2 separate regions of the Homo sapiens genome follow, and region 2 is linked to region 1. The links come from fine-mapping of genetic effects on gene expression. Tissue or cell type: esophagus mucosa. Region 1 holds a variant in brackets; the other region holds the start of a gene. All regions are shown on one strand. Distances are from middle to middle.

Region 1 (8,104 bases):
AAAGCAACATCTCCATTCCTCACACCCTGAAGCCACCAGGCGGTCCTGTTGGCCATCGCCACAGAGGATGCCAGTTTCACTTTCGCTAGTACCAAAATCAGGTTCATGGGCTTCTTGGTGAGGTCCACATTTGAGAAAACAGAGGTAAGAAAGACATCTTGGTTCTTTAATTCTTGACATCATCTTCTGTTAGGATTTCCCATCCTTCCAACATCTTTGACAAATGCATCTTAAAAATGTGATAAAACACACACAACATAAAACTTGCCATTTAAACTCTTCTTTCTTTCTTCCTTTTCCTTTCTTTTTCTTTCTCTTTTTTTCTCTTTCTTTCTTCTCTTTCTTTACTTTCTCTTTCCCTCCCTCCCTCCCCACCGCTTCCTTTCTTTCTTTTTTAGATGGGTTTTGCTCTGTTACCCAGGTTGGAGTGCAGTGGTATGATCATAGCTCACTGCAGCCTCAACCTCCTGGGCTCGAGCAATCCTCCCAACTCAGCCTCCCAAGTAGTTGGGACTATAGGCAAGTGCTATCACACCTGGCTAATATTTTTTTATTTTTTGTAGAGACGATGTCTTGCTAACGCTGCTCAGGCTGGTCTCAAACTCCTGGCTTCAAGCGATCCTACCAGCTTGGCCCCCCAAAGTGCTGGGATTACAGGTGTGAGCCACCATGCCCAGCATAAACTATTTTTAAGCATACGATTCAGCAGCATTTACTACATTCACTGTGCAACAGTCACTGCTATTTCCAAACCCTTGCATAGCCTCATACAGAAACTGCATTCATAAAGCAGTAACTCGCCATTCCTCCCTCCTGGAAGCCTCTGGCAACCTCTTTTTTTTTTTGTCTCTGTAAATTTGCCCATTCTAGGCTAGGTGCAGTGGCTCACGCCTGTAATACTAGTGCTTTGGAAGGCCGAGGCAGTTCGATCACTTGAGGTCAGGAGTTCAAGACCAGTCTGGCCATCAGGATGAAACCCCATCTCTACTAAAAATATAAAAATTAGGCGGGCGTGGTGGCATGCACCTGTAATCCCAGCTACTCCAGGTGGAGGCAGGAGAATCGCTTGAACCTGGGAGGCGGAGGTTACAGTGAGCCGAGATCACGCCACTGCACCCCAGCCTGGGTGACAGAGCGAGAGTCAAAACAACAAAAACAAAAACTTGCCCATTCTAGACATGTCATCTAAGTGGAATCATACATTATTCATCTTTTTGCGTCTGGGCTTATTTCACTCAGCAGAATATTTTTAAGGTTTGTCCATGTTGTAGAATGTGCCAGAACTTCATTCCTTTTTGTGGCGAAATTTTACACATACACACCACATTTTGTTTATCCATTTCTTTGTTGAGGGACACTGGGGTTGTTTCCACCTCTTGGCTGCTGTAACTGTTGCGCTACGAACATTCACGTAGAAGTATCCATTTGTGTGTCCCTGTTTTCAATTCTTTTGGGCATTTTCTTTTTTTCTTTCTTTTGTGTTTTTTTTTTTTTTGAGATAGGATCTCACTCTGTCGCCCAGGCTGGAGTGCAGTGGCGTGATCTCAGCTCACTGCATCCTCCACCTCCCAGGTTCAAGTGATTCTCATACTTCAGCCTCCTGAGTAGCTGGGATTACAGGTGTGTGTCACCATGCCTGGCTAATTTTTGTATTTTTTAGTAGAGACAGGGTTTCACCATGTTGGCCAAGTTAGTCTAGAATTCCTGACTTTGGGTGATCTGCCAGCCTCAGCCTCCCAAAGTGCTGGGATTATAGGCATGAGCCATCCCGCCTGGCCAATCACAGCACTTTGGGAGGCTGAGACAGGAGGATTGCTTGAGACTGGGAGTTGGAGACCAGCCTGGACAACACACTGAAATTCCACCTCCATAAAAAAATTAAAAAATTAGCCAGGCATGGTGAAAGGAGGCTGAAGTGGGAGGATCGCCTGAGCCCTGGGAGGTTGAAGCCGCGGTGAGTCATGATCACGCCACTGCACTCCAGCCTGGGTGACAGACTGAGACCCCGTCTCAAAACAAAACAAAACAAGAAAGAAAGAAAAAAAAAGAAAATTAATTCAGAACAGTATGGAGGAAAAAAAACTCCAAGTCGACAATGATTTCCTTCATGTTTTCAAGGCATGGTTTGTAGTCCCTTATTTTTCTTGCATGTCCTTCCAGTAGTCCATTCCTGCTACTGTGTTGTTACTTTTTCGTCTTGTGTCTTGGTTGTTAAGTCTTTGAAACAGGGCTGCATAAGCCTCTGCCCTCCTACACTGGCTGGGCAGGCAGAAGAGCCTGAGATGCCCGGCCCTGGTCTACACCTGCCTGTGACCTTCGCCCATCTGGGCCTGACTTATACACAAGGCTTGTCAGCTCACATACTCTGGATCCTCACCAGTCCTGGCCTTCTCTCACCAGGGCTCACAAACACTCTCAGTGCAGGTCACCACAGGGCAGGGGTTCGGCTGATGGCTGCTGGGCTCAGTGGCAGGTCAGAGTCCCCCTGTCCTAACAGGTGGCTTTGTCTTTCCTCCCCAGAGCAGGAAGAGAGGAGCCGGGAGGCTGTGGAGCAGTGGCGCCAGTGGCACTATGACGGCCTGCACCCATCCTATCTCTACAACCGCCACCACACCTGATCCCATCCTGAAGCCGGCCAAGAAGACAAAGCTTGTAGCACCATTGGCATCCCCGTGTTCCAGCAATCTTTCCCATGCAAACCGGCCCTTCAGAGGGTCTCAGCTTGGGGTCTGCAGTGGCCAGCAGCTCTTGAAAAGACGCATGCCTTTCCTTCCAGTGTGTGAAAGTGTCCTGACTTTCACCTCTTTGCAGACCATCTTCTGAGGTGAGCAACTGCCTGCAGGGCCTCCTAGTACCAAACCTACAGTGGCTTCCCCTGGCTTCGTTCCCAAGCAAAAGAATCAGTCAAGAATCACATGTTTGCTTATGGCTTACAAATAAAAACGCTGAATCAACCATGTGTATTATCTTCTCAAATCTCCAACCGAGGGGTGTCATGCTGTCTTCCCTGAGCGATGATGTGATTCTTGCTGACTTGGGTGTTTGAAAGCTTGAACTTGAGGAGCATTGCTCACTCTTCTCAATATGTCCCATATGCCACCGAATATGCTAGAGTTGACTCACCCAGTCGTCTATCAGTGTGATCGATTTCTGGACATGAAACGCTGGGTCATAACATATATATATATATGTGCGTGTGTGTGTATATATATATGTATATATATACACACTTTTTTTTTTTTTTTTTTTTTTGAGACAGGGTCTCACTTTGTCACCCAGGTTGCAGTGCAGTGGCAAGATCATGGCTCACTGCAGCCCCGACCTTCCAGGCTTAGGTGATCCTCCCACTTCATTCTCCCAAGTATCTGGGACTACAGGCATGTACCACCATGCACAGCTAGTTTTTGTATTTTCAGGAGAGACGGGGTCTTGCCATGTTGTCCAGGCCGATCTTGAACACCTGAGCTCAAGCAATCCACTCACCTTGGCCTTCCAAAGTGCTGGATTACAGGTGAGCCACTGCACCCAGCCGACTTCTACATATTTTAAACTGGCTAAATCGAATTTCTCTTTGAAGAGGTCGCGTGCTTCCTATCGCTGGGCATCTTTGCTGATCCTTTCTGAAAGCAAGTAAACTTAAGACCAGAAAAGTCCTGGGCAGGGGACAGGGGTGCTTGAAATATACACTATTCATGGTGTCTTTTCAGACGGCAAATCTCACTTCTAGCTCCATTAAATTTAACCAAGTCAGACTTAACCAGGTTCCTAGTGCATACCCTAGCTATGTGATCCATGTACTTCTACCACCTACCCCAATGCCTTCGGGCCTGGCTAAACAGAAAGGCTGTTTAGGAACCCGCAGCTCTCCACAAACCTCCTTGAAAGTGACACACAGCTTTTAGTAAGCAATGTTCTAGCAGTGGAAGAGACTGGTATAACAG[A/G]AAAACTTTAAGGCCAGGTGTGGTGGCTCATACCTGTAATCCCAGTGCTTTGGGAAGCTGAGGCAGGAGGATTGTTTGAGGCCAGGAGTTTGAGGGTGCAGTGAGCTATGATCAGGCCACTACATTCCCGTCTGTCAGACAGAGTGAGACCCTATCTAAAAAAAAAAAAAAAAAAAGAAAAAGAAAAAATGAAATTTGAGAACAACATGTGTCTATCTAGATCAGTTACCGAGTGGATGGTGAGCCTGCCAACTGGGGTTGGTAGTTGGGCAGCAGTGAAAGCTTAACCACTGCTAGCTCAGATCCTGAGTCAGGGGTGCAGGCTGTTCAGCCAGCGATACCAGGGAGGTTGCACTGTATTTGCACATAACTGACCTTCTGGTTGGATGCCAAGACAGGCCCTGAGGTAGGTAGCCTCTGTTTACAAGGTTTTTGTTTTTGTTTTTTTAATTAATGACTAAAAAAAATACTCAGTGTGCAACAGAAAAAAAGGCAAAGTGTTGCTCTGTCACTTCCATGGGGAAACAAGAGAAGCCCCAATCTGGTTCATATTGGTCAGGATAACACACCCCAGTGCTTTCTGGCAAGAGGGCAGTTCCCCTTTGCTGCATGGTGGTGATCAGGAGGATGTCAACCAATAACTTGACTCACAGCCACACCATGCACCACCTGCCGGTCGTGTGTCCACAGGAAGGAATGCAGGGCTTTTCAGATGTCAAAAACCAAGAATGGCTTGCTTTAAAAAAGCAAAACAGCCTGTTCTTGCCTCTTCCCTGCTCATGCTTAGCACGGTGGCTCTAGATACAGAACTCTGGCAGAAAGGAGCCAAATAAGAATTCCATTACCTTGTTCTACCCCCATCCTTAACAAGGGCTCCATTATACTTCAGGGTTTTCAAATTCGGTCCAGAATTCCTTCACCAAATGCCAGCTGCGGTCATTTCCTTGGGCGGGAGAAGCATAACAGAGGTAACGCGATCTGGGATCTGGACAGCCACAGTTCACATGAAATTAGAACAGGGCGGTTTGTATTTTGGAGACTGGCCTTGTCAAAAGTGTGGCCTTTGGGGCTTCTTTTGCTTGGGTTTTTCTGTTCTTTCATTACTTTCCCGTAGTTCTTAGTGGGTTCTAGCTAAGTGGTTGAAAACAAATTTGTCAAAGGATATATCTGTCATTCATTTTTATTCACCAATTTTGCATATGTTGGAATTTCATTTTCCCAGTGCAGGTTAAAGGTACAAGGAAAAAACAATGTTTTTGTGTGTTCCAGGAGAGATTTTACAATTTATTATCGTGTGCCTTTGTTTATTTAGATTTTTTAGAAGGAGGTGGTAAGTTTTGTGAGCCACAGAATGATTAAAAAAATTTTTTTAACTTATGTGGTTTTTATCAGTTACATTGAGTTGGGTTATTTTATTTCTAATTCATTTGCTGCCAATTATGTTCTAATTCTTTGGGAAGTTTTTCATAATTTAAAAGTTTTTCATAATTTAAAAGGCTGGGCGTGGTGAGCCACACCTGTAATCCCAGCACTTTCAGAGGCCGAGGTGGGAGCATCGCTTGAGCCCAGGAGTTTGAGACTGACCTGGGCAACATAGTGAGATTCCATCTCTACAAAAAAAATTAAAAATTAGTTGGGCATGGTGACACATGCCTGTAGTTCCAGCTACTCGGGAGACTGAGGTGGGAGGATTGCTTGAGCCCAGGAGGTTGAGGGTATAGTGAACTATGTGACACCACTGCACTCCAGACTGGGCAAGAGAGTAAGACCCTGTCTCTAAAAAAAAGTTGTCTCTAGCCTTGAAGGGATTTCTCTGAAAACAAATTGGTTAAATATAAATGTTCTAGTCTACAATTGAGAACTCTGATATACTCTGTGATCTTATAATGTTTAAAATTATAAATGTTTAAAAATGTTTTATTCACTTTCCACATTATCTTGGCTTTTTAAAATTAAAAATAGTCTAACAGGTACACGAGACTCCATCTCAAAAAAAAAATAGTCTAACAGGTAATACACACCCATGGTTTAACATTTTTTTTTTTTTTTTTATCTTTTCTTTTTTTTTTTTTTTTCTTTTTTTATTATTATTATTATACTTTAAGTTTTAGGGTACATGTGCACATTGTGCAGGTTAGTTACATATGTATACATGTGCCATGCTGGTGCGCTGCACCCACTAATGTGTCATCTAGCATTAGGTATATCTCCCAATGCTATCCCTCCCCCCTCCCCCGACCCCACCACAGTCCCCAGAGTGTGATATTCCCCTTCCTGTGTCCATGTGATCTCATTGTTCAATTCCCACCTATGAGTGAGAATATGCGGTGTTTGGTTTTTTGTTCTTGCGATAGTTTACTGAGAATGATGGTTTCCAATTTCATCCATGTCCCTACAAAGGACATGAACTCATCATTTTTTATGGCTGCATAGTATTCCATGGTGTATATGTGCCACATTTTCTTAATCCAGTCTATCATTGTTGGACATTTGGGTTGGTTCCAAGTCTTTGCTATTGTGAATAATGCCGCAATAAACATACGTGTGCATGTGTCTTTATAGCAGCATGATTTATAGTCATTTGGGTATATACCCAGTAATGGGATGGCTGGGTCAAATGGTATTTCTAGTTCTAGATCCCTGAGGAATCGCCACACTGACTTCCACAATGGTTGAACTAGTTTACAGTCCCACCAACAGTGTAAAAGTGTTCCTATTTCTCCACATCCTCTCCAGCACCTGTTGTTTCCTGACTTTTTAATGATTGCCATTCTAACTGGTGTGAGATGATATCTCATAGTGGTTTTGATTTGCATTTCTCTGATGGCCAGTGATGATGAGCATTTTTTCATGTGTTTTTTGGCTGCATAAATGTCTTCTTTTGAGAAGTGTCTGTTCATGTCCTTCGCCCACTTTTTGATGGGGTTGTTTGTTTTTTTCTTGTAAATTTGTTTGAGTTCATTGTAGATTCTGGATATTAGCCCTTTGTCAGATGAGTAGGTTGTGAAAATTTTCTCCCATGTTGTAGGTTGCCTGTTCACTCTGATGGTAGTTTCTTTTGCTGTGCAGAAGCTCTTTAGTTTAATTAGATCCCATTTGTCAATTTTGGCTTTTGTTGCCATTGCTTTTGGTGTTTTGGACATGAAGTCCTTGCCCACGCCTATGTCCTGAATGGTAATGCCTAGGTTTTCTTCTAGGGTTTTTATGGTTTTAGGTCTAACGTTTAAATCTTTAATCCATCTTGAATTGATTTTTGTATAAGGTGTAAGGAAGGGATCCAGTTTCAGCTTTCTACATATGGCTAGCCAGTTTTCCCAGCACCATTTATTAAATAGGGAATCCTTTCCCCATTGCTTGTTTTTCTCAGGTTTGTCAAAGATCAGATAGTTGTAGATATGCGGCATAAAAATATGGAACGCTTCACGAATTTGCGTGTCATCCTTGCGCAGGGGCCATGCTAATCTTCTCTGTATCGTTCCAATTTTAGTATATGTGCTGCCGAAGCGAGCACCCCATGGTTTAACATTTTTAAAGAACAGAAAGGAATACGCAGAAAGGTAGTCCCTCCTGGGTCTCCTGAAAGAAACCATTATCACCATTGTCTTGAGTTTCCTTTGAGTGATCTGTATACATCTAAGTATATAAACTTTTTTCTATTTATTATTTATTTATTTTTCCGCCAGGAACACTGTGCTGACCATTTTTATTTTTTTTAAAAAACTTTAGAATTTATTTTTGACCAGTGATATGTTTTTGGGCAGGAGTGCAAGCTCAGCCTGCTGCTAGCTCAGATCCTGCGTCAGCCCTGAAGGCTGTTCAGCCAGCGACACCAGGAAGGTTGCGCTGTATTCACACAAAACTGTCCTCCTGGTTGGATGCCATGCTTTGTTTAATACCAGTTGGTTTACCTATTAAACCAACTTTCTACCACGAATAAAAATCTGTATAGTTAATTTACAGTTAAGCAGTTTTTGTAAAACTTTCCAAAAAAAAAAAAAAAACTTCCTACAGGAATGGCAGTGTTTGAAGATGTGTTTGAAAAGAACCCTGATTTCACATGCAAACAAAGGTGAACATTTTTCTAGATAATGTCTCATTAGTTTAGACACTCTAATAATACTTTTGAGTCTCAAATAACACACTAGTGAGTCTGGATCATTTAG
Region 2 (8,104 bases), 79 kb before region 1:
GGTCATGAGTTCGAGACCAGCCTGGCCAAAATGGTGAAACTGGCTCTACTAAAAATACAAAAAATTAGCTGAGCTTGATGGCGCGCCTGTAATCCCAGCTACTCAGGAGGCTGAGTCAGGAGAATCTCTTGAACCCGGAAGGCAGAGGTCGCAGTGAGCCGAGATCACGCCCTGCACTCCAGCCTGGGAAACAGAGTCAGACTCCGTCTCAAAAAAAAAAAAAAAAGAAAAGAAAAGCATAAATTTAAATACATCTAAATATCTAAGTACATCCTTGTATAAATGCCTTGGGGGAGAGATGGCAGGAATTTTCACATGGTTGTGAAATTAGGGCATTTTAAAGGAACAGTAAAAACACAGGTGTAAGTAGCTTCATCTCATTCGAATTTCTTTATTGGTCATGAAAACCAATCACCGTCAGCGCGGGTAAAGGTCCTGATCTTTTTTTTTTTTTATTTTTTCACCCAGGCTGGAGTGCAGTGGCACGACCTCGGCTCACTGCAAGCTCCGCCTCCCGGGTTCACGCCATTCTCCTGCCTCAGCCTCCCGAGCAGCTGGGACAACAGGCGACCGCCACCACCCTGCTAACTTTTTTGTATTTTTAGTAGAGACCGGGCTTCACCGTGTTAACCAAGATGGTCTCGATCTCCTGACCTCCTAATCTGCCTGCCTCGGCCTCCCAAAGTGCTGGGATTACAGGCGTGAGCCACCGCGCCCGGCCAAGGTCCGATTTTTTAATAAACAAGGGAAGGGTGATGAACTGAATTCACAGCTTCAGTTTTTTTTCTCCTGGCAGCAGTGCCCACATTTCACCAGGCGAGGGCAGAAAGGAGAGACCGCCTCGCCGGTCCACATCCAGAAAGGGGCGTTCCCAAGGGCAGAAAGAGGCCGACCCTCCACCTGCACCCGCCCCAGGCCCTGCGCTTGCGTTCAAACCGTGACAAACCGTAGAGTCCTTGAGAGCCCCGGGTTACTCCTACATGGTCATATTCCCGCGCGGGATGCCGAAGTGGGGCAGATGAGGTCCGGAGCTGCTGAGGGATCCCGGGTCCTTCTGTTGGTCTGAGACCCTGGGGCGGGCGGAATCCCGGAGAAAGCCGGAGGGACTCCCCAGTGGAAGCCTGGGAGCTGCCGTTCTCCTCCCTGCCTGTGCAAACAGGAAGGGGCTGGTGATGCTGGCTGCGGGCCTCCCTCCTGGACTGCGACATTGTCACCAAATTCTATAAAGACGTCATGCAGGAAGTGATAACGTGTGCTGCGACGTTCTGGAAGTAACTCGAAGCTAAAAAAGAACAAAAAATCAATGAAAAAATGAAACTAAAGAAACAATGAGATGCTATGTCAATATCCGTAGTTATGGAATGGAAAATAAATCTTACAAAGAGATGCTGGAGTTATCTAAGAAATTTACACCATACTGGCCTGTGTGCATCAGACTTTTCTGGAGGTCATTTATTTTATTCACTTTTTTTTTTTTTATGACCAACCGAACTTTCTAATATTTTGGGCTGGAGTCCCACTAAATGAAATACCCCTTTTGAATGGCACATATGACTTTTAGGGATGCATCTTAGCATTTTTATTTTTTTATTTTTATTTTCAAAACTTCATTGATGTTTTGGAGTTTTGTTTGTTTTTTGTTTTTGTGTTTTTTGGACATGGCCTCACTCTGTCGCCCAGGCTGGAGTGCAGAGGCACGATCTGGGCTCACTGCAACTTCAAACTCCCGGGCTCAGGTGATCCTCCTGCAGCAGGACGAGCCGCAGACAAAACTCAGACACCGGATTAAAGAAGGGCTGTATTAGGCCGGGAACTTCGGCAGACTTGCAACCGAGGTCCCTGAAAAAGAAATTCTTGGCCCTTTTAAGGGCTTGTAACTCTAAGGGTCTACGTGAAAGTTTAGTGAGAGATCGAGCAAGCGTGGGGAACATGACTGGGGGCTACAGGCAACAGCTAACAGAACAGAAAGTTTTGCAATGCTTCCTCATACAATGTCTGGAATTTTTATTTATTTAATTTATTGATTTATTTTTTATTTTTTTTGAGACGGAGTCTTGCTCTGTCGCCCAGGCTGGAGTGCGGTGGCGCCATCTCGCTCACTGCAAGGTCCGCCTCCTGGGTTTACACCGTTCTCCTGCCTCAGCCTCCTGAGTAGCTGGGACTACAGGCGCCCGCCACGACGCCCGGCTAATTTTTTTGTAGATCAGGTGTTCTCACTATGTTACCCAGGCTGCTTTCGATCTATAGCGATCCTGAGCTCAAGCGATCCTCCTGCCTCGGCCTCCCAAAGTGTTGGAGTTACGGGCGTGAGCCACCGCACCCGGCTAAAAACCTGTTTGTTTGTTTGTTTGTTTGTTTAGAGACGGAGTCTTGCCCTGTCACCCAGGCTGGAATGCAGTGGCGCCATCTCGCTGACTGCATCCTCCGCCTCCCGGTTGCAAGTGATTCTCTTGCCTCAGCCTCCCCAGTAGCTGGGATTACAGGCGTGCGCCACAACACTCAGCTAATTTTTGTATCTTTAGTAGAGACGGGTTTTCACCAAGTTGGCCAGGCTGGTCTCGAACTCCTGACCCCGTGATCCGCCTGCCTTGGCCTCCCAAAGTGCTGGGATTACAGGCGTGAGCCACCGCGCCCGGCAAACTTTTTGTTTAAATCGGAGATTTTATTCTTTCAGCTGTCAGTGGAAGGAGCAGTCACGTAGGGTTAAACAGATGGAAGCCATGACGTTAGGAGAGTGAGTGAGGTCCCAGCCCAGCCACTTGTCACTGTGTGACCTCGGCCTGGTCACTGGGCCCCCGAGCTTCGGTGCGGCAGGGAGGGTCCTGGTGATGGAACAGAAACAGGGTGCGGGGCAGGGGTAATGACTCACGCCTGTAGTCCCAGCACTTTGGGAGGTCGAGACGGGAGGCGGGGGGAGTTTGAGACCCACCTGGGCAACGTAGCGAGACCCCATCTCTACAAAAAATAAAAATTAGCCCAAGAGTTCAAGGCTGCAGTGAGCTATGATCGCGCACTGCACTCCAGCCTGGGCGACAGAGCAAGATCTTGTTTCTTTTTAAAAAGAAAGAAAATAAAGGACGGAAGGATCATGGTGTGGGGAGGACTTCAGCCCCGGGCGGTTGCCCGGCGCGCGGACTCTAGCGGACTAGGGCTCCCCAGCAGCCCGGCCCGCGAGCTGGCACCGCCCGGAATCCCGCTTACGTCCAGTCCGGGGCGGCGCCTGGAGGCGGAGCCGCCCGCTGGGCTAAATGGGGCAGAGGCCGGGAGGGGTGGGGGTTCCCCGCGCCGCAGCCATGGAGCAGCTTCGCGCCGCCGCCCGTCTGCAGATTGTTCTGGGCCACCTCGGCCGCCCCTCGGCCGGGGCTGTCGTATCCTTTGGGCTGCGCGGGGCTCGGGCTGGATCCGGCGCCGGCGCCGCCGCCTGAGTGGTGGCCCTGGTCCGGGTGGAGGCCTCGGGGTCGCACGCTTCGCAGCCCCAGCGCCTCCTCGCTCAGCGCCGCGTCCCCGCCTGGGTCGCGTCTCTTCCAGGAGCCGGGGAGCGGGGAAGAGGCTGCGTCCCCCGAGGACACGCGCGGCCGCCCTGGGGTCGGGGCAATTGCCGCGTTGCCCTGCCCTCCGGGATCCCTGGGGGCCTCTGCTCCTCTCTTTGTGGAGACGTCGTTTCACCGGCGGCGCGTGACCCCGGCAGCTGTCCAGAGACCCAGAGATGTCCAATCACAGGCGCACGGTGCACAGGCGCGCAGGGCTGCCTGGAACCGGCCCAGGCAGGCAGTGACCGGGACCTCTCCGGAGGGGAGAGGACGGTGCCCTCCCGGGCAGGAGCTGGCCAGGCAGGCGCTGCCCAGGGCGGCCTCCCTGCTGGACTACGGCATTGCCACTGAGTTATATAAAGACACTATTTGGGGAAGGACAGCGGGTGAGGACTGGCGCGGCGGCACACGCCTTGCCTGTTGTCTCGGCTCTTCTGGGGGCCAAGGCCAGGAGTCCAGGGTTACAGTGAGCCGTGATGGCCAGTGCGTTCCAAAAGAGAGAAACAGAGAGAAAGAAAGGATAACATGTTAATTGATGAGAGTGACATTCCGAAAGTAACCGATTAAGCTAAAGAAACAATGCAATTCTATGTCAACTCTCTGCAGTTACCGGATAGAAAGGAGATCTTTAAAAGGAATTTCTAGGGTTTTGCTTTTTTGGTTTTTTTTTTTTTTTGAAACAGGGCCTCACTCTGTCACCCAGGCTGGAGTGCAGTAGTGGTACGATCTCGGCTCACTCCTGGGCTCAAGAGATCCTTCCACCTCAGCCTCCTAAGTAGTTGGGACTACAGGGTTGCGCCACGATGCCAGGCGAATTTATGTTGTTGTTGTTATTGTTGTTATTATTATTATTATTATTATTATTATTATTATTATTATTATTTTTGAGACGGAGTCTTGCTCTGTGGTCAGGCTGGAGTGCAGTGCCGCACTCTGCAATGTCGGCCCACTGCAACCTCCGCCTCCCAGGTTCAAGCCATTCCCCTGCCTCAGCCTCCCAAGTGTAATTTGTATTATTATTATTAGTAGTAGTAGTAGTAGCAGTAGTAGTAGTAGTAGTAGTAGTAGTAGTAGTAGTAGTAGTAGTGGTGGTAGTTTTTTTTCTGAGATGGAGTCTCTCTCTGTTGCCCAGGCTGGAATGCAGTGGCCTGATCTCAGCTCACTGCAATCTCCACCTCCCAGGTTCAAGCAATTCTCCTGTCTTAGCCTCTCCAGTAGCTGGGATTACAAATGAACGCCACCACGCCTGGCTAATTTTTGTATTTTTAGTAGAGATGGGGTTTCACCATATTGGTCAGGCTGGTCTCGAAATCCCGACCTCAGGTGATCCATCCGCCTCGGCCTCCCAAAGTGCTAGGATTACAAACGTGAGCCACCGCCCCCGGCCTAATTTGTATTTTTAGTAGAGATGGGGTTTCACCATGTTGGCCAGGCTGGTCTCGAACTCCTGAGCTCAAGTAATCCTCCTGCCTCAGCCTCCCAAAGTGCTGGAATTACAGGCATGAGCCACCGTGCCTGGCCTTCTATATTTTACTTTATTTGCCTTAATTCACATCCTAGGTAGCTCATCCCACTTCAGGGACTATTTCCTCTGCCAGTTTCCATCCTCAACAATTCCAGTAAGTAGTTTGAGTTTTGATTTTGAAATATATTATGTATATAAAAGTTTCTTGAGTGGTAATGAAGATATACCACATAATATGTTACCTGATTAGAATTTTATTATACAAATCCTCTGTTTCCAGGACTTATTCTAATTAGTGCACTTGTGGAAAATTTTGGAGACCGACTAATTTTCTGTATGTATTTTAAGATTCAGAAAGAAGGAAAAATACCAGAAAATACATAATCCGACATTTATTTATTTATTTTTAATAGAGACGGGCCCTTCCTATGTTGCCCAGGCTGGTGTTGAACTCCTGGGCTAAAGCAATCCTCCTGCCTTGGCCTCCCAAAGTGCTGGGATTGCAGCCTGAGCCATCACACCAGCCTTATAATCTGACTTTTAAAAATTCAGTTAAACATCTCATTTAAATTAACTTGTGGCCGGGCACCGTGGCTCATGCCTGTAATCCCAGCACTTTGGGAGGCCAAGGCAGGTGGATCACTTGAGGTCAGGAGTTCGAGACCAGCCTGGCCAACATCTCTACAAACCCCACCTCTACAAAATGAAAAAATACAAAAATTAGCTGGGCATGGTGGTGTGCACCTATAATCCCAGCTACTCAGGAGGCTGAAGTGGGAGAATCGCTTGAACCTTGGAAGTCAAGGTTGCAGTGAGCTGAGATCACGCCACTGAACTCCAGCCTGGGTGATAGAGCCAGACTCCATCTCAAAAAACAAAACAAAACAAAACAAATTAGCTTGTATTTGGTTATATGGACATATTAGCTAGCATCTTTGGTTTATCTTAAATCACCTTTAAAGGGGAAGATCTTGACCTTCCTAAATATTCTCATACAACCACAATTCCGATCTTAAGGAATAGGTTGGGTGATTTGAGTTTATGGGTATGCTGTACATTTATTTGGATTTTGTTACTTTACCTTCTTGGAATGCATCAACTGGACAGTTAAAAATATACAATTTATTGAATTTGTTTCCCATCTGAAAAATCATATGTATTCATTACAGAAACATCAGAGAAATAGAAGGAATTTTAAAAAATCATCCCTAATTCCATTTCTAAAGGCAATCACTGTTAAAAATTGCTTTGGTGTATTTCTTTGCAGGCTTTTCTTTTTTTCATATAGTGTCTTGGTTTTACATAATTGTAATAATATTTTATTATAATAAGCATTGTCCATACTATTTTTTATTTTATTATATTTTATTATATTTTATTTTATTTTGAGACCGAGTCTGGCTCTGTCGCCCAGGCTGGAGTGCAGTGGTGCCATCTTGCTTCACTGCAAGCTCCGCCTCCCGGGTTCACGCCATTCTCCTGCCTCAGCCTCTCCAGTAGCTGGACTACAGGCGCCAGACACCATGCCGGGCTAATTTTTTGCATTTTTAGTAGAGGCGGGTTTCACCGTGTTAGCCAGGATGGTCCCGATCTGACCTCGTGATCCGCCCACCTCAGCCTCCCAAAGCTAGGATTACAGGCATGAGCCACTGTGCCCGCCATCCATACTATTATATGGCCTTAATTTTTAATGTCTGAGTCATATTCCACTGAGTGAACATAGTGTCACTAGTTAATTTTTCTTCCACTAATGCACTTTTTTTTTTTTTTTTTTTTCTGAGATGGAGCCTTGCTCTGTCACCCAGGCTGGAGTGCACTGGTGCAATCCTGGCTCACTGCAATCTCCACCCCCACAGGTTCTAGCGATTCTCCTGCCTCATCCTCTTGAGTAGCTGGGATTACAGGCACGCTAATTTTTGTATTTTTAGTAGAGATGGGGTTTCATCATGTGAGTCAGGCTGGTCTCGAACTCCCGACCTCAGGTGATCCACCTGCCTCAGCCTCCCAAAAAGCTGGGATTACAGGCATGAGCCACTGTGCCCGGCCCACTAATGCACTTGTTTTGGTGACATAAAGCGTAAGTTTTCAGATTATTTCCTTGGTCTTAGAAATGCTGAATTGAAGAGCATGAACGTTTCCTAGGTTCTTGTTTTTGTCTTTGTTTTTGTTTTTTGAGACGGAGTCTGGCTCTGTCGCCCAGGCTGGAGTGCAGTGCCATGATCAGAGCTCACTGCAACCTCCGCCTCCCAAGTTCAAGCGATTTTCCTGCCTCAACCTCCCGGGTAGCTGGGATTACAGGTGCCCACTACCATGCCTGGCTAAACTTTGTGTTTTCAGTAAACATGGGGTTTCACCATGTTGGTCAGGTTCGTCTCAGACTCCTGACCTCAGGCGATCCACCTGCCTCGGCCTCCCAAAGTGCTGGGATTATAGGCATGAGCCCCCACGCCTAGCCTCAGGTTCTTGATACATATTTTTAGGATGTAATTTAAATTTTTTTTTTTTTTTTGAGACAGGGTCTCACTCTGTCGCCCATGCTGGAGTGGAGTGGCACAACCAGTATTTTTTGTAGAGACAGGGTTTCATCATGTTGCCTGGGCTAGTCTCAAACTCCTGACCTCAAGTGATCCACTTGCCTCGGCCCGCTAAAGTGCTAGTATTAGAGGTGTGAGCCATTGTGCCTAGCCTGTAATTTAAAAATGTAACTTATTTTGGGATTCTTTTTCTCCTTTAGGTATACTCTGGATAATAACGTTCTAACCCTGGAACAGAGAAAATTTTATGAAGAAAATGGGTTTCTAGTAATCAAAAATCTTGTACCTGATGCCGATATTCAACGCTTTCGGTACAGTAACACTATTTGTTATTTTACAATAGTATGTATTGTGTGCATGTAATGAGAATACAAGGTGGATTCGCTCCTGGCTTTACAGATGTTTTTTAATGATTTGGTTTGTTGGGAAGTGTTTAGAAGCATGGGCTCTGGTGCCAGACTGGCTTTTTATTTTTTATAGAGAAAGGTTCTCACTCTGTTGTGTAGGCTGAGTGCAGTGGTGCGATCATAGCTTACTGCGGCCTCAAGTTCCTGGGCTCAAGCAATCCTCTTGCC

Evidence for each region. PIP is the estimated chance that this variant, and not a neighbour inherited with it, causes the effect.
Region 2: PHYH starts here. The variant in region 1 is fine-mapped to the expression of PHYH in esophagus mucosa (GTEx, PIP above 0.99).

Annotation. Positions count from the first base shown.
Region 1 is chr10:13,216,617-13,224,720 of GRCh38, reverse strand. UCMA (upper zone of growth plate and cartilage matrix associated) reads left to right here. Exons shown (of 5, transcript NM_145314.3): 5 at 2,521-2,955. The coding sequence ends at 2,618. It also overlaps the pseudogene RNU6-6P. Among named protein-coding and RNA genes, the nearest start is that of UCMA, 14 kb to the left of the region's middle. The variant A/G (reference allele first, on the strand shown) is at 3,942.
Region 2 is chr10:13,295,232-13,303,335 of GRCh38, reverse strand. It overlaps PHYH (phytanoyl-CoA 2-hydroxylase), which reads left to right and starts at 3,272. Exons shown (of 9, transcript NM_006214.4): 1 at 3,272-3,368; 2 at 5,091-5,149; 3 at 7,730-7,840. The coding sequence starts at 3,294. It overlaps LOC124902377 (a long non-coding RNA gene), which reads right to left and starts at 3,147. Exons shown (of 2, transcript XR_007062056.1): 1 at 2,930-3,147; 2 at 368-1,282. RefSeq lists enhancers at 584-733, 924-1,213, 1,070-1,570, 2,946-3,085, 3,662-4,282 and a silencer at 3,266-3,685.